Homo sapiens: one gene and its partners. The protein of the gene in region 3 interacts with the protein of the main gene of each other region in a pairwise test. Each region holds a gene or a part of one and is shown on either strand. Other genes may lie near its edges. The genes, in order: NEDD9, MTFR2, TRIM23 and LMO2.

Region 1 (7,165 bases), on a different chromosome or scaffold from region 3:
ATTCCAGGAATTAAACACGTAGTGAGCAACGTGGAAGATAGATGACAGCAGTGAGAGAGTTAGGCAAAGAAACTAAAAAGAAATCATTAGAATAGACCAGACCAAGAGATTCAGGGGCCTGACCTCACCACCAATTGCTGTTATAACTCAAACTGGTGGGGCCCTGTGTGAGGCACTCAATCTCTCTGAGCGACAGACAGCTCTGCCCTCTCTATGAGTGGCTGGATTAGGTGATTTCCAAAGTCATTTCCTGCCCTCACATGCTCTTCACTCTTTGCCCTTCACTCTTAGAGAGCAGTCACGTGGGTTCATTCCAAGTTGTCAACAGAAGTATTTCTTCTTTCTAGCCTCCTCTTGATTTTTTGCTGTATTTATGCCAGTGCCCAGTTGCAGCTGGAAAATCATTAGAATGGCATCCGGTGCCATTTCCCTCACTCCTGCCTGCACAAGCATCTGGAAGGAAGAGTGCTTGGTTGAAGAGCAGGCAGGCGGCAAGGATGACAGGAGGGGATGCCCACCGGAGTGCTGGCAAGTGCAGGAAGTGGAACCGGAGGCCCAGAGTTCTAGCCAATTTCAGGAGGGTCTCTATGGGAATCCTAGGGCTGCTGCATAAATCAATTACATAGCCCAGTTTAAACATCATTTTTGCATCTGATAGTAATAAATGAGGAAGGGAATTGTTTCTGTATTCACTGAGACAATTTGTGTTTCCCTGAAGAGTTTTAAGGGCAACATACTAAATGACACTAATAAAGTAACAACTATCTGCATTATTTAAGCTGCATTAAGACCAGAGCTCAATATTTTAACTAGTAGCCTGCTGTCCTTGAGTGTTTAACAAACCGGAGAGAAACAGATTACTCCCTGGTCAAAACACTGCAGAGGCTTCATGTCACACTCAGGAAAAAAATCCAAGCTCCCTACCACCTACCTCTCTGAGCTCATCCTCTCCATCCAGCCCTGTGTACCCCACGCTAAGCACACTAGACAGCTTGCTGCGCTTAGACACACTAAGCTCGTGCCTACTGCGGGCCCTTCCCCTGGGTCACTTCTGTCCGGAATGCTCATCCCCTAGATCTCTGAGTGGCTGGATCCCTGAAACTATTCAGATTTCTGCTTAAATATCATCTCCTCAGAGGAGCTTCCCTGACCACTTTATCTAAAATAATACACCTCCTGTCCCACCCTGGTCTGTTTTCCTCCAGCAATTTTCCCTGCTTAATTTTTCTTCATAGCATTTATCACTGCAAATCATATTATACATTCATTTAATTATTTTCCTCAACTCTCACTAGACTGTAAGCTCCATGAAGATGGGAACTTTGTCTGGGCTACTGCTGTATCCTCCCCTCCTAGAAAGGTACCTGGCACATGCTAGGTGCTCTAGTGATAACAGTTCAGTGAGAAAGCTGCCTTATGAAAGAATGGCACACAGAGAAGGGGTTCCTCCAACTTCTTCTGAATGCCTACCACACTTATCAACAGTAGTCTAATATTAATACTAGTTATAATTAATACAATAATTAAATAATAATCTATAGAATATAGCAATAATGTCATAAAATATTAACAAAATATCATAAATCTGATATTAATTAAAATAATAACTAATAACAACAGTAATAAGAACAAGCAACCATTTAAGGTCTTACAATGTAACAAGTACTATTAAATTCTATCCACATTATCTTATTTAATCCTCATTATGAGGCTAGCAGGTATTATTATTTTCTCTATTTCATACTGAAGGACATCAAAATTAAGAAGTTCAACTGGCCAGGCACAGTGGCCCACGCCTGTAATCCCAGCACTTTGGGAGACTGAAGCAGGTAGATCACCTGAGGTCAGGAGTTCGAGACCAGCCTGGCCAATCTGGTGAAACCCCGTCTCTACTAAAAATACAAAAAATTAGCCAGGTATGGTGGCAGACACATGTAATCCCAGCTACTCGGGAGGCTGAGGGAATTGCTTGAACCAGAGATGCGGGGATTGCAGTGAGCCGATATTGCACCACTGCACTCCAGCCTGGGCAACAAGAATGAAACTTTGTCTCAAAAAAAAAAAAAAAAAAAATTAAAAATGTTTTGAGGTTCCAGCACAGGTTTACCTGATTCCAACACCCTTGTGCTTTCCTTTAGGCAGCTAACTATATACTGACCCAAGCCTTCTTGAAATGAACTTCGGGTAGATTACATGTGTCTTACTTACCTTACAGGACAGAAACAGGAAAGCAGGAGGGCCACTAGCTAGAGAATGAAATTACAAAAAAACCCCAGCACAAACTTTAGGAAACTGTTTGAAAACATTAAAATAGGATGGGACAGCACTCACTTACTCAATGATATTCATCAAACAAAACAGAAAAAGGATTCAGCTTGACCACTTAGGAAGCCAAAGGAATGTTATCTAGATCTCTTGGAGGCCGCAAGACTCATCTTACAGATGGGAAGGGCTTTGAATCATTGTCCTCCTTTATCCAGGTAGACACCAAAAACAATTTCCTGCAAACTAACGACTCTCCGGTCAGTCTGCAGGATTCTTAAGGAGATCGTTACAATGCAATATGCTGCGTGCTTAATTTGTGTTCAGAAAGGCCTTGCACAATCACTCAGGCTTATTTTTGCTCTAAGGACAAATGAGGAGAAGCAAGGCCTAATACAGGCTGGAACAGGTATGTCAACCTCATTAGGATGGCCTGGGGGGTCATGTCCCTGGAATCAGTGCCACACTGAACTGCAAACTAACCTGCCAACCCTGTATCTGGAAACCACTTTTGTAGGACAGCTGTTCTCTCATTCCTTTTGCTTAGATCATAAAAGTAGAGTTTTCATCCATTGGGAATTTGTGTGTTAGACGCGAAGGGAATCAGATTCTGATCCAACTTGGTCAGGAAAAAAAAAAATAAGGGCTGATTTTTCCATCCAAGTCATGTAGTCTGGTTGGAGTGCATCCCACTCAGGGACAGCTATTGTCTGGATTCACCGAGTCTCAGTCTTGCCCGGGAAAAAGGAATTTTTCGCCTCACTGCTCTGTCCGTGAGAAGAGTTGCAGAAGGTGACCATTTCTGTTTTCTGGGTGATTCTCTTTCTCTATAGAAATCCTAAAATGGAACCTTTATAGAAATTATGTTCTGTGCTTCGCTGGAGAGAGACTGGTCTTTTTAACCAGGCTCATCAAACAGTGGGCATTTTCGTTCTCCTGGATAATAAGTGTTGGTGGGTTAATGGGTCATCCTCAGGACAGAGGTCAGAAGGAAAAACACTGCAGTGTTCAAAGCTGGAGCTAGAAATGCCAGCCGTCAAAGAACACAGAACTCAGTGGACGGTGATGATGTATAGGGCGTGCACTGGCCAACCCCATCCGAGAGGTCACATCTAACCTTTATCCTCAGCAAAGCCACTGAAGGTCGCTCAATATGTGTGACCCGCAACTCTGAGGCCCTGGTGAGAAGCTGTCCAGGAAAACGCTGGTGCGTGTGCTAGAGGGTTCCTTTTCACTAAGGGAGAATTGTCTTCCAGCTCCTTGCAGACTGACATCGCAAAGTACTTTGAACGTTGAAAAGAACAAAAAAAGCAAACAGTCACACACACACAAAAAGTAGGCGGGAGGAGGGGGAAAGAAAAAGGGACAGAGAGAGAGAGAGGTATCAGCAGGGGTGGTTAGTAAAAAGGGGCCCGGAGACAGAAAACCTTTTGTTCCCGGAGTTCGTTTCATGTAGAGATTGTGAGGTGAATGGCTTTGAAACGAAATGGGTTTATGAAGGAGTTGCTAGGTCACAGGAAGCGCGACTGTCAGACTGCTTTTGTGAATTCAGTTTCTTTAAAATTTGGGTTAATCTTAAAAAGAATGTATCTCCTTTTCCTGTTCTTTCTCTTTCTGTCTTCTTTTTTGGCGGGGGCGGGAGGACAGAGTAAGGTTCAGGACGGTTCCCCACTTTCTGTTTTATTTTCCACCGTCTGATAAAGCAAAAAGAAGCGATCACATTACAAGTTCTTTGTCAGTTTTTCAGAATTAGGGGTGGGCAGGGCCTGAGCATTACCTTGTCCCACTAGCCAATGGCGGGGCGGCATGCAAATGAGGTCCGCGATCAGCCTGCCTCAGTCACAACAGTGAGCTCAGAGACTTGAGGGAGGCGCTGCGACTGACAAGCGGCTCTGCCCGGGACCTTCTCGCTTTCATCTAGCGCTGCACTCAATGGAGGGGCGGGCACCGCAGTGCTTAATGCTGTCTTAACTAGTGTAGGAAAACGGCTCAACCCACCGCTGCCGAAATGAAGTATAAGGTAAGAGAGTGCCTTTTACAGGTTACCTTGCAAGCTGAAAGCTGTGCCTGCGGGTGTGTGCTTGTGTATGCGTGTTCCTTACTGTCAGTCCCTTGTGTGTCCCGGAGAGTTCTAAGATGAGTCTCGGTCACTGAGGTTGACATGCAAGCAGACAAGCAAGCAGAGACCCGGTCTTTGAGACCCACTCCAGGGGTTCACAGTACACCCGAGTCCATCTGCTCTGAAAGTTGCCGGGGAAATACCTCGGTGAGAAGTTAAGACTTGGAGCCGCTTCACAGCAGCCACTGGAGATCAGAGGGTGTCTGACTTGAATCGCGGCAGGCATTGGCTCAAGTCTCCTTGGCTTCCCCAGGCCTGGCTTCCACTGCCCTGGGGAACTGTAATGAGAGGAATGAGGACTGCATAGTCTGTCTCAGACTGGCTCTTAGTGCAAAGTTTTCCAGACTTTGCTTTAATCGTTTGGTCTCGGAAGGAGTATGCCATATGCACTTTTGGTGGGAGAAATTAAAAGCCCAGATTACACAGCTGAGGATGGAAAATTTTGACATCCTTATGTTATATTGGATGTAGGAATAAATAAGTATGAGCCATTTCTTGAAAACATTTTTATTGGAGTTTGAATGGGGTGAGAGTGCGAAGGCTCAGGCTGGCTCATTGTGCCTGAAAGCTTACAGAGTGTCATAGTCATAGTACTTCAGCAGCATTATTTTCCAATGCATTTTACACCATTGTTTGTGGATTTTTCTTGCCAAAAGGATTTTTGACTTGCTCCGTATATTCCCCCCTCCCCTTTTTCTTTTAAGTCACTCCCATCTAAGGAGGCAAGCAGCTTCCAGGGGACACAAAGAAAGCAGACTGCAATGAATTGGACATGAATTTTTCTTGAATGATGAATAGACATGAGTGCTAGTGCTACTATTTTATTTTATGCTATTTTAAACAAAAGTGTTATTATTAAGATGGATTTGGGCAAGGGTGCTAGGCTTGTGGATTGACAATTTATATTAACTGTACACTAGCTGGAAGCTACTTCGCTTTTTTTCTAAATTTTTCTGGTCCATCCTTTTTTGATGTAAGGTTGTAAATACTTGGTCTAACTGATAGCCACTGACTAGCCTCAGTAATAAAGCTTTTGTTCAAAAACTATGAATCTTATTCAAAAGCTTTAAGTCTAAATGTCAAAAGTCTTTATAGTAATGCCTACGTTACCACTGTCTGAAGACACAGGTATCAGCTATTTCTGTTTCATCAGCTTTCTATTATCTTCATCAGTAGGGAAGATCAGAGGAAAGGGTCATCCTGAAGACTATTAATATTTGACTTTAGGATGCAACCAGAAACAAATCCCTCTACTTGGCAGGAAAGTTATCTTCCTTAAAGTGGCTCACCCCATATTTCCTTATTTAGAACAATGATAGGACCAGATATTACTCAGCCTGGAGTGACTTTTTTGCTCCTCCTTTCCCTGTTGTTGAATAAGAACTGGCTTGCAGAAAAAAGAGAAAGTATGTTCATATGTCTATTATTGGAAAGTATAAATGGCTGAAATTAACATTGAGTGCTATAATCTAGAAAGTGACGAAAGCGACAAAGTCTCAAGTCACTTTTATTCAATGATCTCATCGTGGTTAGCTTTACTCTTTATGGAAAGAAAATCTAAAGGCAACTGATAAAGTGACTGACAGCGTAAACTGCGATTGGCATTCATGGAGAAACCTGCTTCTCCACTGGGCCTTACTGGTGTTGAACACCTTGCCAAATGATGTAAATACATGATTTTTATTACCTTGTAGGCACCTTCACCAGCAAAAAAGCTAACTTCTCCGACCGAACACATGACTTATGCCCTATGATGACTATTAAATCAACCAATAGCTGAAGAAATCCACTTTCCTTTTTTATAAAGTTTTCTTTCTCTCTAGTTAATAATGAACAACTTTACTTCAGGAAAGGATTTTGTTATTGTAAGTAGAGGAGAGACACAAAAGTAATGAAGTAACATTAATTGAGACTTACTGTGACAACACAAGATTGTCATATTCAACTCTCCCAATAGCTCTACAAGGTGGGTATTATTTTTATACTCAATTTCAAATGACACAGAGAGGCTAAGTAATTTATCTAATGCCACACAGCTAGAAAGTGGTGAGCTGGGATTAGAACTAAGGCGATCTGGCTCCAGAACTCATGACTTTAACCACTATTAAGAGAAAGAGAAAGAGCTATCGTTGACCTCTCTAAAATATGGCCAGTGTTTTCTTCTCCCAGAAAGTTTAAGACTATTTCATCCCAAGTATTCCTGCAGGATAATTTCTTTTTAAGATAGTAACTCTACAAAGCAAAATGAAGTGCATGTTTGGCAGTTATTTGTTTAATTCGAGCCACTTAGGTAGTAAAACCAGATAATTATTAGATGGTAAAATCCCAGAGACAGGAATTATCTCTAAAATACTACGTTGCTCTATGCACTGTAAATTTAGCACAAACCTTAAAATGTTTACTGAAAGACTTATGAATCAGGCCCTATAAGATTGTCGTTGTTAACCTGATTATCTGGTTTGGCTGCCCCAGGGATCACAACTACGGAACAACAAACCTTCACTTATTTTGCACTTAATATACATAGCTTCAGGCCAGGCAGCAAGGTACTTGCAGTAATCCTGAGAACTGTGGAATGTAAGCTATTACTCCGGACAGACATTTCTGGTTAGCACTTATCTAATCTGTCTTTATTTCCCTGTATGTTTTTATTTGTCCACAGGAAGGTTGCAGTCACTGTCATACGTACTTAATTTTCCATTTCTCTTAGAAGGGATTCAGTCTGTGGTTATGTGATAGTAAATTACGGGGGCTTCATTTATTAAGAATTTTCTACAAAATCCC
Region 2 (7,048 bases), on a different chromosome or scaffold from region 3:
TAAACAACACATCTGAGAAAAACTGAAAAATTAATTTTACATTAGTGTAGCTTACCCTTGAAGTTTCTGGACTAGAAAATGGGGAAGATTCCCAAGATCTATTCTCTTTCTCAAAAGAATCATCTTCTTGAAATGCAAATTTCTGTTTAAGTGCATGAGATATTAAAGAAACTGGATCCCAATGTGAATTCTGTCTTTTCCTCTTATGAATGGGTCTACCGCCAGGTGACCTATTTTTTAAAAAAAAAAATTGAATTTATTAAAACTTGGATGTAATTTTAGCTCCTTGTTGACAAACATGGCAGGAATACAAGCATATCTTACAATTTAATTAGTCTTCAAGAGATTGAAAATAATCTAATCTTCAAGAAATTTTCGCAATGAAATAAGGAAGGCACAATGAATGAAGAATCAGAAAACCAAGAACCCATGTGACTTGAGACTCTGCCATAACCTTGTTATGACCTGAGATTTGTCAGATGTCACTATGCTGAAGATCTTTATTATGGTAATTTTCTAATTTCCTAATGGGTAGGAAAATTCAAATAAATAAGAACTTTTAAAAGGACGAGAGTTCATGCCAAAAAAAAAAAAATTACGCAAATTGTTCATTTGTTTGGTTGTTCATTCATTTAATCTTCATTGAATGCCCACTACCACATCCGACTCCATTTTATGCTTTGGGAGTATTCTGCTCCCAATTCTTACAGCAAGATTATCATCAATATACAAGTAAGATCATTTGGCTGGTAATAAGAGCTGTGAATAAAACAAAACAGAGGCTGGGCACGGTAGCTCATGCCTATAATCCCAGCACTTTAGGAGGCCAAGGTGGGAGGACTGCCTGAGCCCAGGAGTTCGAGAGCAGCTTGGGTAACATAGCGAGACCCCATCTCTAGAAAAAATTTAAAAATTAGCCAGGCAACTACTTGGGAGGTTAAGGCAGGAGGATCACTTGAGCCAAGGAGGTCAAGCCTGCAGCAAGTCATGGCACCACTACACTCCAGCCTGGGTGACAGAGCAACACCCTGTCTCAAAAAAAAAAAAAAAAAACTAAATTAAAAAATAAAAAATAGGGAAATGTAATAGTGATTAGGGACAGAAGCACTTTAGATATGATCAGAAAAAAAGCCTCTTTAAGGAAGCAACATCCTCTTTAAGAAAATGACAAGGGGTCAGTTTTAGTGTAAACATCTGGGGCTGCATCAGGAAGGAGCTTGGCATGTGTGAGAAACGGAAAAAAGAAAGCAACTGCAGCTGGAGTGCAGTGGGCAAACATGGGGCATAGGAGAGGAGCTCAGCGAGAGAAGTGAGGGCTGGCTCCTGGAGGGGCCTACGGACACAGCAAGGGCTCTAGAACTGATTCAAGCACAACGGAAACCCACAGAAGAGTCTGAAGCAGGAGAATGGCCTGATCTGACTTCTGGTCACTATCTGCAGAATAAATAAGGAGGCAAGAATGAAAACAGATCACTGAGGAGGCTGCTGCGGAAGTCTAAGCTAGATAAGAATGGGCTTAGCCTGGGGAGTTGGCAGTGGAGGTCAAGAGGTCCACAGAATTGAGCTATGTGCTGATGGGAACGGTGGGAGATAGAATGGAAAATAAAGATGAAGGATGATTCCTAGATATTTGTTTTTGTTTTTTTGAGACGGAGTCTCGCTTTGTCACCAAGGCTGGAGTATAGTGGCTCACTGCAACCTCCGCCTCCCGGGCTCAAACAATTAATTCTCCTGCCTCAGCCTCCTAGTAGCTGGGATTACAGGTGTGCGCCATCATGTCAGGGTAATTTTTGTATTTTTAGTAGAGACTGGGTTTCACCATGTTGGCCAGGCTGGTCTCGAACTCCTGACCTCGAGTGATCTGCCCACCTCAGCCTCTCAAAGTGCTGTGTTTACTGGTGTGAGCCACCGCACCTGGCCTGATTCCTAGATCTTAAGCAACCGGGTGATCGTGTTGCCATTTGCTAATATGCAAAAGACGTGGGAAAGAACAGGTTTTCAAGGTGGCGGAAAAGAACAGGTAGGAAGGAAAAGTCCTGTTTTGGACCTGTGAAACGAGATACCTGTGAGACAGGCAAATAAAGATGTCAAGTAGGCATTTCAGTATGTGCATCTGGGCTCAAGAGGAGAGGTCAGGGCTAGAAAAATAAACGTTTGAGTCATAAGCATACAGCTGGTATTTAGAGTCATAGGACTAGGTGAGCTCACCAAAGGAAACAGCATGGACAGAGAAGAGAGGGGGCTGAGGTCTGAACCAGGTATTTCAACATTTAAAGACCAGGCCCAGGGGGAAGAGTTTAAGGAATAAGAAGGAATAGCTGATGAGGTCAGAGGAAACCTGGGGGTATGCTTTCCCAGAAACCAAGTAAAGAAAGTGCTCCAGGCTAGGCGCAGTGGCTCATGCCTGTAATCCCAGCACTTTGGGAGGCCAAGGTGGTCGGATCATGCGGTCAAGAGATCGAGACCATCCTGGCCAATACGGTGAAACCCTATCTCTACTAAAAATACAAAAATTAGCTGAGCATGGTGGCACATGCCTGTAGTCCCAGCTACTCGGGAGGCCGAGGCAGGAGAATCACTTGAATCCAGGAGGCAGAGGTTGCAGTGAGCCGAGATCACGCCACTGCACTCCAGCCTGGCAACAGAGCGAGACTCCGTCTCAAAAAAAAAAAGAAAGTGCTCCAAGGAGGTGGGGACCATAGGCTGTATCAAATGCTGCCAAGAGGTCAACTAAGACGAGCAATGCTAAGAGACCAGTGGATTTAGCCACATGGAGTCACTGGTGAAGCAGTTTTCAATGGAGTTTTCATGGGTAGAAGGCAGCAGCGATAGACAGAAACAAATTATAGACGACTTCAAGAATTCATATCAGAAAGGGGAGCAGAACAACAGAACAACGGCTGAGAGTACATGTGTTTTGAAGGTGGGAAGTACTCAGGTGTGAGGAGAAGGATGAAGTATAGAAGGAAGACTCAGTGATGCAGAAGGGCTCATTTTAAGTGAAATCCTTGTGAAGAGGAAAGAGAAGGGAAACCAGTAACCAAAGGAAGAGCCTGGCCATGAATGATGACACTTGGCTCCCAACAGCAAGATGGAAGGCAGAGAATCTGCACGGGGAATCTGTAGGTGTAAAGAGGTGAGAGAGCTCATCTGATTCCTCAGCAACGTACAAAACAAAGTTAGCTGTAGAGGCAACTCAGGAGAGAATAGGGGGACAGGAGGCAGAGGCTACTGGCCTTTTAGTTGTTTTTCCAGTGATGGTAACAGTCACAGAGTTGCCACTTGATACTAAGCCCGACAACACAAGTACAAGATCTAGTTGGGACCAAGCATGCACCTACAGCCATGAGATTCTTCTCAACAAGCTGCCTCATGCTCTTCCTGTGGTTACTGGTTTCCCTTCTCTTTCCTCTTCACAAGGATTTCACTTAAAATGAGCCCTTCTGCATCGTTGCAAGGATCAAACTCACAACCTCATTAAAAACAGAACTGACTTATCTGTCCCAGGACTATCATACAGAAAATATATCTATTTTCTCACCGAAAACCTCACTGAGGGATTTCCAAGTAAGCATGGCAAATCCCTTGTGAAATCCTACTAAAATGACAGTAAAGAAATGAAAAAGATCTATATATCCACAAGGACAAAGAGATTAGAAGGGGAGACAGGAGATAAGAATTGCAACCAGATGCCGGAAGCTGGAAAGCTGATGAAAGTGAGAGCATGGGGCGTGGGCGCCCTGCTGAACACAGGGCGTGTGCTAAATAAGACACTTCTCTCTTGCTCCTCTTTCCCCACTCAGCTCTCCAATGACCTGACTTGCACCCGCTGTGTAATCCCCATCCCTCCTGACCACAAGGGAGAATGAAGAACTTTCTAAGGAAAATCCTGTAGCCCAAAAGAAAAGACATACAGCTCTGGGGTGTGGCCAACAAAATGGTCCTCTCCCTAATCACTAAACTGTGAAGCTCCCAAGTTGATAAGCCCACCTCACACAAAGAACATGCGATCAGCTTTTCCTTGCCTCATTTTAAATAAGAATCACCAGATGCTTACCCAAGGCTACAAAACTAAAGATAGAGATCAAAGCTAAAAGGAAAAAAGAAACTCACAAAAAATACAGTAATTCAAGAACAGAGGAAACTTAAAACAAACCTACACTTTTAATACTGTCAGTGGGATAAGACCAACAAAACCAAAAAGATTTTAACAAGAAGCATTTGAAGAAAAAGAAACAGCTCTTAAAAATTAAAAATGTGGGCCAGGTGTGGTGGCTCACACCTGTAATCCCAGCACTTTGGGAGGCCGAGGCCGGCAGATCACAAGGTCAGGAGTTCATGACCAGCCTGGCCAACATGGTGAAACCCTGTCTCTACTAAAACTACAAAAATTAGCTGGGCATGGTGGCACGTGCCTGTAATCCCAGCTACTCGGGAGGCTGCAGCAAAAGAATTGCTTGAACCAAGACCCAGGAGGCAGAAGCTGCAGTGAGCCAAGATCATGCCACTGCACTCCAGCCCGGGCGACAGAGCCAGACTCCATCTAAAAAAAAAAAAGAATAAAAGAACATTTTTGGACATGCAAAGTAGTAAACTAATCTACCCTTTATGTTTCTCAGGAAGCTATAGGAAGATATGACATTTAGGAAATCAGTGATGCAGCATAGAAAAAAGGGGGCAAGAATGCTCAAGAGGTAAGCGAAGGAAATCCTTCAGGCACAGAGGGATCCTTGAGGAGAATCACCAAGAACTAAATGGAGGGTCATCCAAAAATTAGAAATAGAACTACCCTATGATCCAGCAATCCCACTTCTGGGTACTTATCCAAAAGAAGTGAAATCAGCATCTCAAAGAGATATCTGCACACCCACATTCATTGCAGTGCTATTTACAATAGACAAGACATGGAAGCAAACTAAATGTCTATCAACAGATGAATGGATTAAGAAATGGGATATATACATACAATATACAGCATGCTAAGTGAAATAAGCCAGTCACAAAAAGATAAATGCTGCATGATTCACTTATATGAGGCATCTAAAGTAATCAAACTGGGCCAGACACAGTGGCTCTTGCCTGTAATCCCAGTACTTTGAGAGACCGAGGCAGGAGGATCACTTGAGCCGAGTTCAAGACCAGCCTGGGCAACACAGTGAAATCCTGTCTCTATTTTTTTTAATAAGATAAAATAAAAAATAAAGTAATCAAACTATAGAAGTAGAAAGAAGAATGGCAGTTGCCAGGGGATGAGGGGAGAGGGAAATGATTACTGTTCAGTGAGTATAAAATTTCAGTTATGCAAGATGAAAAAGCTCTAGAGATCTGTTGTACAACATTGTGCTTAACGATACTGTATTATACACATAAAAATTTGTTAACAGAATAGAGCTCATTATGTTTTTTCACCACACACACACACACACACACACACACACATGGAACTCAGAGAGGCAATTATTAACTCTAAAAAAATTATTCAACAAATAAAATGTAGTCAAAATATATGAAATGGGGCCAGGCACAGTGGCTCACACCTGTAATCCCAGCGCTTTGGGAGGCCAACATGGGCAGATCGCTTGAGCTCAGGAGTTAGAGACCAGCCTGGGCAACATGGCGAAACCCCATCTCTACAAAAAAATACAAAAATTAGCCAGGCATGGTGGCACATGCCTATAGTCCCAGCTACTAAGGAAGCTGAGGTGGGAGGATCACTTGAGCCCAGGAGGTCGAGGCTGCAGTGAGCTGTAATTTCAACACTGCCCTACAGCCTGGGTTACAATATGAGAAATGGCTTACTGTGGATGTTCACTGTTATAATAAGGATATTAATTCTGAATACTCATTTAACTAAAGATTGTGGTTTAACTATTTCAGGAAGACGTGGCAAGATGTGTGTGTGTGTCCTGGGTAGAGTATCTAAGAAAATATATTCCTAATATCCTACAATTGGAAGTCAACATAATTAAAATATCAAGAAATAGCAAATAAGTATGTTGTTTCAAAAATATGGTGATAAGAGACTAGAAGAAGAAATAGTCAAAAATAATTGAATGTCATTATCTCTAGGAGAGGTATTCAGGGGTGAAGAAGAATAAGAAAAAAGACATATATGTTAATTTTCATAAACATAATAATTTTTCTAAACATAAAATTGACAAAATTTCAGTTCACTTTTCAAATTACAACAACATACCGCTCAATTGCACGAAGCTTAACCTTATTCATATCCTTTAGAACGTCCAACATGTTTGGAATATCTTTATTTCTCTGGCTTTTTGAATGATGACTATAATTGGTCTTATTAGCAGCCGGGTTCTGTTTGCTCATTTCAGTTGCTGGATTATCTGAGTCACAAATATTATTAGATCCTGGTTGTACGGGAGGAAAACACGGTGGCTGGAGAGATGAAAACTGAGGAGGAAGTGGTGGAGGAGGAGGAGGAGAAAGCACTGAACCTGGAAGCTGATCTGGGTCCACACTCAGATGGGCAGCCCGCGATGATGACAGCTGACCCAAACTAATGCGCTCGTCACTCAAGCCAAAGGAACCTACAAACAAAGTGGTTTATTACAAAATCATGCACAATTATCTCTAACGTAATATATATTAATAACACTAATTAGAACCAAAACAGGAGCAATTTCTGTAATGCTAGTAGCGATATGGTAGCAAGGAAAGAGTGTCAATCCCATCTGCTTAGTAATTTAAGAGTCAAGTCAAATTGTGAATTCATTTTTAATCCAGTTAGGAATTTTCAGTGTAGGTCCAAGAGCAGAGCGGGGAGGAGAATGCATCTTAAACAAACAAAAAAAAGAGTTTTTTCAGTAATTCACATACACTCTGAACTTCATCCTCTATTTTAAAAAAGCTAAAACAGAAATCAACAACTTGTAGTTAGAAACACAAATTGATGTATTCACTGTATAATGACATTGGAGAAATAAGCATATTATTTTCTAAGCAAAGCTTAAGATGGGTACTGAGTATTTAACTTTTCCACTTTAAGATTTGCTCATAAAGGACTGTGGGTAAACACGATTGCTTA
Region 3 (4,192 bases):
TGAGAAGTATCCCAGTGTTACATAAAAAGCCTTTCTCTTAGCAGTATTAGTTCATGAGCTACCACTAAGTTTTGCAAGCCATTTTCTAAAATGGTCATTTAAAATACTATGTTTTCTTATGAAACAAGTTTACATTTAAAATTTAAAAGGCAGTAACAAAGTTTCACTTCGTTCAATGTAAAACTTTAGCTCCGCCTTCAAAACACTATGGTTATATTACTTATTTAAATGTGGCCTGCACATTACTTCTCGGCCTTTTGGCTAAGATCAGGTGTAGTTAAGATCAAGTTTAGTATCTGTTCTCATCAGTAAATGTGGCCTATGTTGCAAATTCAAAACGTTATTTCTAAAATTTTGCTGTATCAAATAAACTACATCTCAAATTTGACAGGCATGCCAACCCATACCCATTTTGTTTTATTTTCTCTCCTAACCACAGCACAAATAATGACTTCTTAAATTGGTTACAACTAGCAATAATATTAGGTAGATGGTTCAAGAAAGAGACTTTCAAGAATAATGATGGGACTTCTTAAAAATGATCTTAACATTTTATTGCTGTCTATACTTATCATATATGTAGTGCAAATAATGGCTTCTGATGGTTATAAAGCATTCCTGAATTATAGACTACGGCTATACACTTGACATACCTGCTTTATATAACATACAGTAATATTTAGACCTAATACAGAAATTCAGCTACTAGGAAAATTCTAATATACTGTATATAAAAAAGCTCTCTTCTTAGTTTCCCAGGGAAGACTAGCACAGTCTTAACTAATGATTAGTGAAATAATACAACCACAAATAGTAATAGGAGCTTGAGAAAAATATTTCTTTAAAAATGAATCACACACAAACACCTACCATTATACATACATTATAATCAGGCACAATTTTTCAACTGTGTTCAGTTATATGCTAAGAATGTGCATTACAAAGTTTAGCAAAATTAGTGAAAAGGGAAGCAAGTTCACCTTAGTGTTACACTTTTTCTTCAATTAACTAGTAAACAGTTCAAGTTCTCACAAGCAATACAACACCTTTTTTATTTTTCACAGTTATTGAAATCAGTCAAATATTAAATAATTTAATTCGGAAGTATTATTTATGCACACAAACTACACCTGTAACAGCATGACCTTTTACCTGAAAAATAAAGGATGAAATATTACATTTATTTATTTACATATTGCCCATAATACTGATAGGCTTTTTTTTTAATGCTTTGTTTTCTAAAACTTGTATTGTTTTTAAACAAAAATAGATTTGAAAAGAATGAACCACAACAGTGCTACCAAAAAGTCACATCTTGTTACCAGACATCACTGTCCTTACAACAATTCAACTAATAAGATTTAAGATTTAACTTCATCCTAATGTATCAGAACATTAAAAAAAAAAAAGTCTCAATGTACCTATTTAAATAAATCGTGCTTCCATAATAATATTCTTTAAAAATGAAAAACAGTAAAGAGCACACATTTTTATTTACTCACAACACTGAATAATTAATGTAAACTTTTTGAATTTTTTTTTTCTTTAGACATTTTTCCTCTAGAGTAACTTTTCAAGGCCTTCTCATGAACAGCCTTAAGTTTTATTGTCAAAATAAATGCACTTATTTTGGGAAACAGTTTGAAGTAAGTAATAAGCATTTGCCACTGTACTTACAACTTCTCTTGAAGTTCGCTTTCTATTTAGGTCACTAGCTTTTAAATAAAGCCAACCCTGGTTCTGCGTTACTTACTACATTTTACCTATAGTCATTCCCACAAAGGATGCAATATTATATTAGAAAGAAATATTACTTTAAATTTGTTGAAAAATAGAAGGACCAATTTAGAGCTCTGACCTAGGTTCAGTCCTGGAAATGGGTCTTTCATAAATTCAGATCCAATTACTTCCACAGTTTTATTACTGTTCAGTTTATTACTAACCTGACAAGCCTAATTGGGTAACATTTCACTCCCTCATTGTGTTTTATACAAAATGCTGTAGGAGAAAGTTAATAAAACACTATATAAAGTATTAATTTTCTGTACCTTATAGTTCTTAGCATTAAAGGTGTTCTGTTAACTCTGAACATAAACATAAAGTAATCCTATTATCCAAATATGTAGTTTGGATTCTATTTCATTAAGCAACTGTCATTTCTACTACTAAATGCTGCCAACATTCAGTGAAAAGGCAGGTTAAAAGAAGCAGCTATACTTCACTTGCTTCACACAGAGGTCTCATTAGGCACTCAATTGGCTATTCTTTTTTCACTGAAAGAATAAACCTTCACTTACCCTTTCTCTGTGACTACCTCTTTCCCAGTATATTGGTCACATATTATCTGAAAAACTTAAATAACAAATATACTTTTTAAAAGAATGTATATTCAATAAGTTTCTATTTAATTCAATCTAATCTGCTCAATTAGAAATTTAATTCTGCCACAAAATTTTTTTAAAGCAAAGTACTGAATTCCCAATCCAAGATTCCTTTATATATATATATATATATATGCATCCTAAATTACCATCTTTTGAGATGTATAATTTCTTAAAACATACTATGTGCAAAGTTACTTTTAACCACAAAACTTCAAACAACTGCTGCCTTTAAAATCAAGCAACATCCAATACTCCAGCAGCTACAAGTTGCCGTGAGAGCCAGTCCAACCCTTCATACAGTCCCATACCACTTCGAGCATCACAGCCCTGAATATACCAGCTACGGCCACAGCATAATTTATGGAGACTGAGTAGTTCAGTGATTTCTTCTACTGACAGTGCTCCAGCAACATCCTGAAAGATATATACACATATTTTTTATCAGTCCATCCAAATTATAATTTTTCTAATTATCACCATTTATAGAGAAATTTGTTGACAGTGTTCTAACAGAAGCCTAAACAAAAAACCTAGATTCATCTTTCAGTAATTATTCTGAGATTAATAAGAATAGAAAAAATTAGTTTGGTTTAACTAATTTATATGTGTGTGTATGTATATACTTTGTAAGGCTAGCTTAACAATGAAATCAATAAAGTCCTTGCAACCTAAAAGGAAACATACTGCCTAAGTAATTTTTTTATCTTTTGAGACAGAGTCTCACTCTGTCACCCAGACTGGAGTGCAGTGACATGATCTTGGCTCACTGCAACTTCTGCCTCCTGGTTCAAGCGATTCTCCTGCTTTGGCCTCCCAAGTAGCTGGGATTACAGGCATGTGCTACCATGCCCGGCTAATTTTTTTGTATTTTTAGTAGAGATGAGGTTTCACCATGTTAGTCAGGCTGGTCTCGAACTCCTGACCTCAAGTGATCCACCAACCTCAGCCTCCCAAAATGCAAGGATTGCAGGCATGAGCCACCACGCCTGGCCTGCCTAAGTGTAAGGCATCAACTTAAAAAAAAAAAATTAACACATAGAAACCTTAATAAATGGTTTATATATAGGGTTATATATTGAAGAGTTCACTACATTCCCACTCTGAACACCCATTGCCCCAACTTCCCAGGAGCAACCACCAGTTACAACATATTTTTCCAGAAAATTTCCATGCACACTCATGCAAAGAGACACAAACAGGAACATAGTTTAGACTTTCTATAACTTGCAGGGTTTTCTGTTTGTTTTTTACGTAAACATGTTGAAGATGAGTATCTTTCCATTATCAGCACAGATGGTCTGCATTATTTTTAATATCAGAATTCCCTTCCATTGTGTGGCTGCAACATAATTTAACCAGTCCTATACTGAATGTTCAGATTGAAGTTTTATGCTTATGTGCTATTATAAATCCATATATATACACATACATACATAAACATACATACACAAAAGTTGACATACATTTATGTATATTTGCAAAATTATCTGTAGGATAACCTTTGGATATCTGTCTACCAGATATATAAAGGTAGAATTGCAGGGTAAGGGACTTTGATGAGTATTGCCAAATTGTCCTCCAAGAAAATGTCTCAGTTTAATAACCCACGAACAGTGTTGACCAGGCGCAGTGACTCACACCTGTAATCCCAGCACTTTGGGAGGATGAGGCGGGCAGATCACTTGAGGTCAGGAGTTTGAGACCAGCCTGACCAACACGATGAAACCCTGAATCTACTAAAAATACAAAAGTTAGCCGGGTGTGGTAGCAAGCACCTGTAATCCCAGCTACTTGGGAGGCTGAGGCAG
Region 4 (3,049 bases), on a different chromosome or scaffold from region 3:
CTCCGGGGAAGGCAAACACACAAACCAAGGTGCCTGCTTTAAATCCGCAAAGTAAAGGTCCTCTTAACCACTTGTCATAAAACACCCTGAGACACCCGTCTTGGAAAATCGAAGTGTCAAGCTCAGCATCTTTGCCACATTTCAAACTAGGTAATTACCTTCTCTCCCAAAGGGAATCTGCTTTATGTATTTGTGTCCTTTCTAGGTTACAAGTTTCCCAAAGGCAATGATCTTGCCTTCCACTCACTCCATACAATGCTGAAGTGAAATGCATATTGTACAATAACAATTTAATTATTCTACATTCCTCTGAGCTACATGATGACCTGTTACATAATTGCCAGTAATATAGAAATGTGCCTGCCTCATACAAACCCTTGCAATACACAGAAGTTTTTATTTGACCTAAGAGTAAATTGCTTATTTGCTTCTCCTTTAGAAAAGAAAAAGCAGAGCATTTCCCCGCCATCCCAAATTATAAGTCGTAATCAAATAAACAACACTGTATTTCAGTCTGTCATTTTTATTAAGCCTGCAGAGCTGTTTTTTTTTCTACACACGACAAATACTTTGATATAATCTAGGATAATAAAATAGTTGAACAACTTTTTAAGATTTATATTTGTATAGAAACAATCTGTGGAACTCCTCCCCTCAAAATGAAGGTGTCTAAAAACAGTGATTCATCAGCATTGCTTTAAATAATTGTTTGGTTAAAAGTTGTGGTTTCCATTCTCAACCGAAATGCGTCTCCATGCAGTTTTCCTTGGGTCCAAAGCTTAAGGCCTTGGGAAGGGGGCCAAGAAAAAAAGAATGGCCACTCTCCTTTCTGTCCTTCCCTTGTGTGGAGGACAGTGATTGAAACAGGGGAGTTAAAAAGCCAGGAAGAAAAGAAATCAATTGCACATCTCTAGTTCGCAAGCGTCAAAGTCACAACAAGTCTGTACACAACAACTCTCTATCTGTAGATATGAAATTCCATCATGATAGCACAGCGCCTGCTTGCCCCTAAATGTTCCTTTCTTCTGCTAATCATGTCAGTTACTATGGATGGGCTGTGGCCATAAGTTCTCCCTCAAGGGCTGGTCCTTCTGTCACCTTGAAGTGTCAGCCCCTGAATTATGCCACTTGGATGCTATGTCTTGATACCCAATAAAGGTCTACCATCCCCTAAGAAATCCCTTACCCCACCCTCAAACCCCCAAAGTGCCTAAGAGTGAAGACGAAGATGCCATGGAGACGGCGTCTTCAGTGAACACCTCCCCAAAGATGCCCGGGGACTCGGGCCTATATCATCCCATTGATCTTAGTCCACTCGTAGATGTCCTGTTCGCACACTATGTCAGAGTTGATGAGGAGGTATCTGTCACCTACACAGAAATGCTTCTGACAGGCGGCGCATTTGAAACATTCCAGGTGATACACTTTGTCTTTCACCCGCATTGTCATCTCATAGGCACGAATCCGCTTGTCACAGGATGCGCAGAGACCGTCTTGCCCAAAAAGCCTGGGGCAAAAGAAAGAAAAGCTAAGAAGACAGTGAAAGGGACAATCCTGGAAGACAGGGCTCGGGGATGAGCCCTAGAAAGGAGGCCGAACTTTCAGGATGTCAGGAAGCCAGGGAAGGTCGGCTCCAGAAGGAGGGCCGGCTAGTGCAGTCTTCACCAGCAGGCAGAGGGAACTCAGATGAAACTGGCATTTGGATCTGGCATAACTCCTCCCTTTTCTGAGCCCTCTCCTTGTCTGCAGCAACCGCTCATCATTCCCCTAGGCTGCCCCCTGGCTCCTCCTCTGTGGGCAAGGCTCTCAGCTGATGTGATCTATCATAAGGAGTTAGGCAAGTATTACCTGTCCCCTCCCAGGGGAACCCTCATTTCAGAAGAGCAGCTGGAGAGAGACCCTAGGGGCCCCTTTGAGAGGGTACTGACCAGGAATGCAATAAAACGGGCATTCTTCTGAGGCTCCCAAACTCTATCATGTCAACAGCCACTGATTCTACCCATGGGGAGAGCTGGCCTTGAATACCTCCATAAGCTGCAAAGCACATCTCCCCCTGATTATTCGCTGGGGCCCCAGCTGCTGGGAGACAGGGAGTTCCACAGAAAACACGCGGTGCAGCTAATCGTGCCTCTGAGATATGGAGGACCAACAGCATCTCTCCACCATGAAGGGAGGATCTTAATTCATGGCCCTCGCTGCCCACTGGCATGAATCAAAAGGGAAACTTCTTTTCTGACATTTAAATCAAGACTCTCCCAAGCCTCAGTTGATCAGTCACTTATTTCAGGCAGTATTCAGTGTCAAGGTGGGAGACAGAACATGGCAGGGCTCAGTGCAGTGGTTCTCAAAGTGTTGGTCCTGGGACCAGCGACATCAGCACTGCCTGGGAACCTGACAGAAATACAAATTCTCAGGCTGGGCGCAGTGGCTCACACCTGTAATCCCAACACTTTGGGAGGCTGAGGCAGGCAAATCACTTGAGCTCACAAGTTCGAGACCACCCTGGGCAACATGGTGAAACTGTGTCTTTACAAAAAATACAAAAATTAGCCGGGTGCGGTGGTGCATGCCTCTAGTCTCAGCTATTAATACTTGGGAGGCTGAGGTGGGAGGATGGCTTTAGCCCGGGAGGTGGAGGTTGCAGTGAGCCGAGATCATGCCACTGCACTCCAGCCTGGGCCACAGAGCCATACCTTGACTCAAAAGAAAAGCAAAAACTAAACAAACAAACAAAAAAACAAATTCTCAGCCCTCCTCCTTCCCTACCCAACTGAGACACCCTGGGGAGAAGGCCCAGCAGTCTGTGCGTTAATGAACACTTCCGGGGGACTGGTTGCAGGCTGACATTTGAGAATCAACAGCAAAAGTGCAGTAACACAAGTACCGGAAGCAGAGAAGACCCAGCTTCAATGTCCCGGACCAGCCCTGAGTGACCCTGGAGAGACCTCTGATTCTCTGAGCCTCAGTGAAATGGCAGCCATCATAGGCTCCACCTCACTCAGCTGTTAAAACAACCAAACGAAGCATGTCAGGGCACCCATGGTCAAGG

Evidence for each region.
Region 1: the proteins of TRIM23 (region 3) and NEDD9 interact in binary tests that used the Homo sapiens proteins (3 or more experiments, as listed by UniProt).
Region 2: the proteins of TRIM23 (region 3) and MTFR2 interact in binary tests that used the Homo sapiens proteins (3 or more experiments, as listed by UniProt).
Region 4: the proteins of TRIM23 (region 3) and LMO2 interact in binary tests that used the Homo sapiens proteins (3 or more experiments, as listed by UniProt).

What each region holds. Positions count from the first base shown.
Region 1 is NC_000006.12:11,229,621-11,236,785, reverse strand, and holds the start of NEDD9 (enhancer of filamentation 1), read left to right. Parts: upstream 1-4,117; 5' UTR 4,118-4,270; coding exon 4,271-4,282; intron 4,283-6,075; exon of another isoform or gene 6,076-6,347; intron 6,348-7,165. UniProt on the Homo sapiens protein: Scaffolding protein which plays a central coordinating role for tyrosine-kinase-based signaling related to cell adhesion. As a focal adhesion protein, plays a role in embryonic fibroblast migration.
Region 2 is NC_000006.12:136,233,270-136,240,317, forward strand, and holds part of MTFR2 (mitochondrial fission regulator 2), read right to left. Parts: intron 6,552-7,048; coding exon 6,197-6,551; intron 231-6,196; coding exon 56-230; intron 1-55. UniProt on the Homo sapiens protein: May play a role in mitochondrial aerobic respiration essentially in the testis. Can also promote mitochondrial fission.
Region 3 is NC_000005.10:65,589,151-65,593,342, forward strand, and holds the end of TRIM23 (E3 ubiquitin-protein ligase TRIM23), read right to left. Parts: intron 2,799-4,192; coding exon 2,619-2,798; 3' UTR 2,353-2,618; coding exon of another isoform or gene 2,294-2,352; 3' UTR 1,153-2,293; coding exon of another isoform or gene 1,149-1,152; 3' UTR 540-1,148; downstream 1-539.
Region 4 is NC_000011.10:33,858,069-33,861,117, forward strand, and holds the end of LMO2 (rhombotin-2), read right to left. Parts: intron 1,508-3,049; coding exon 1,288-1,507; 3' UTR 508-1,287; downstream 1-507. UniProt on the Homo sapiens protein: Acts with TAL1/SCL to regulate red blood cell development. Also acts with LDB1 to maintain erythroid precursors in an immature state.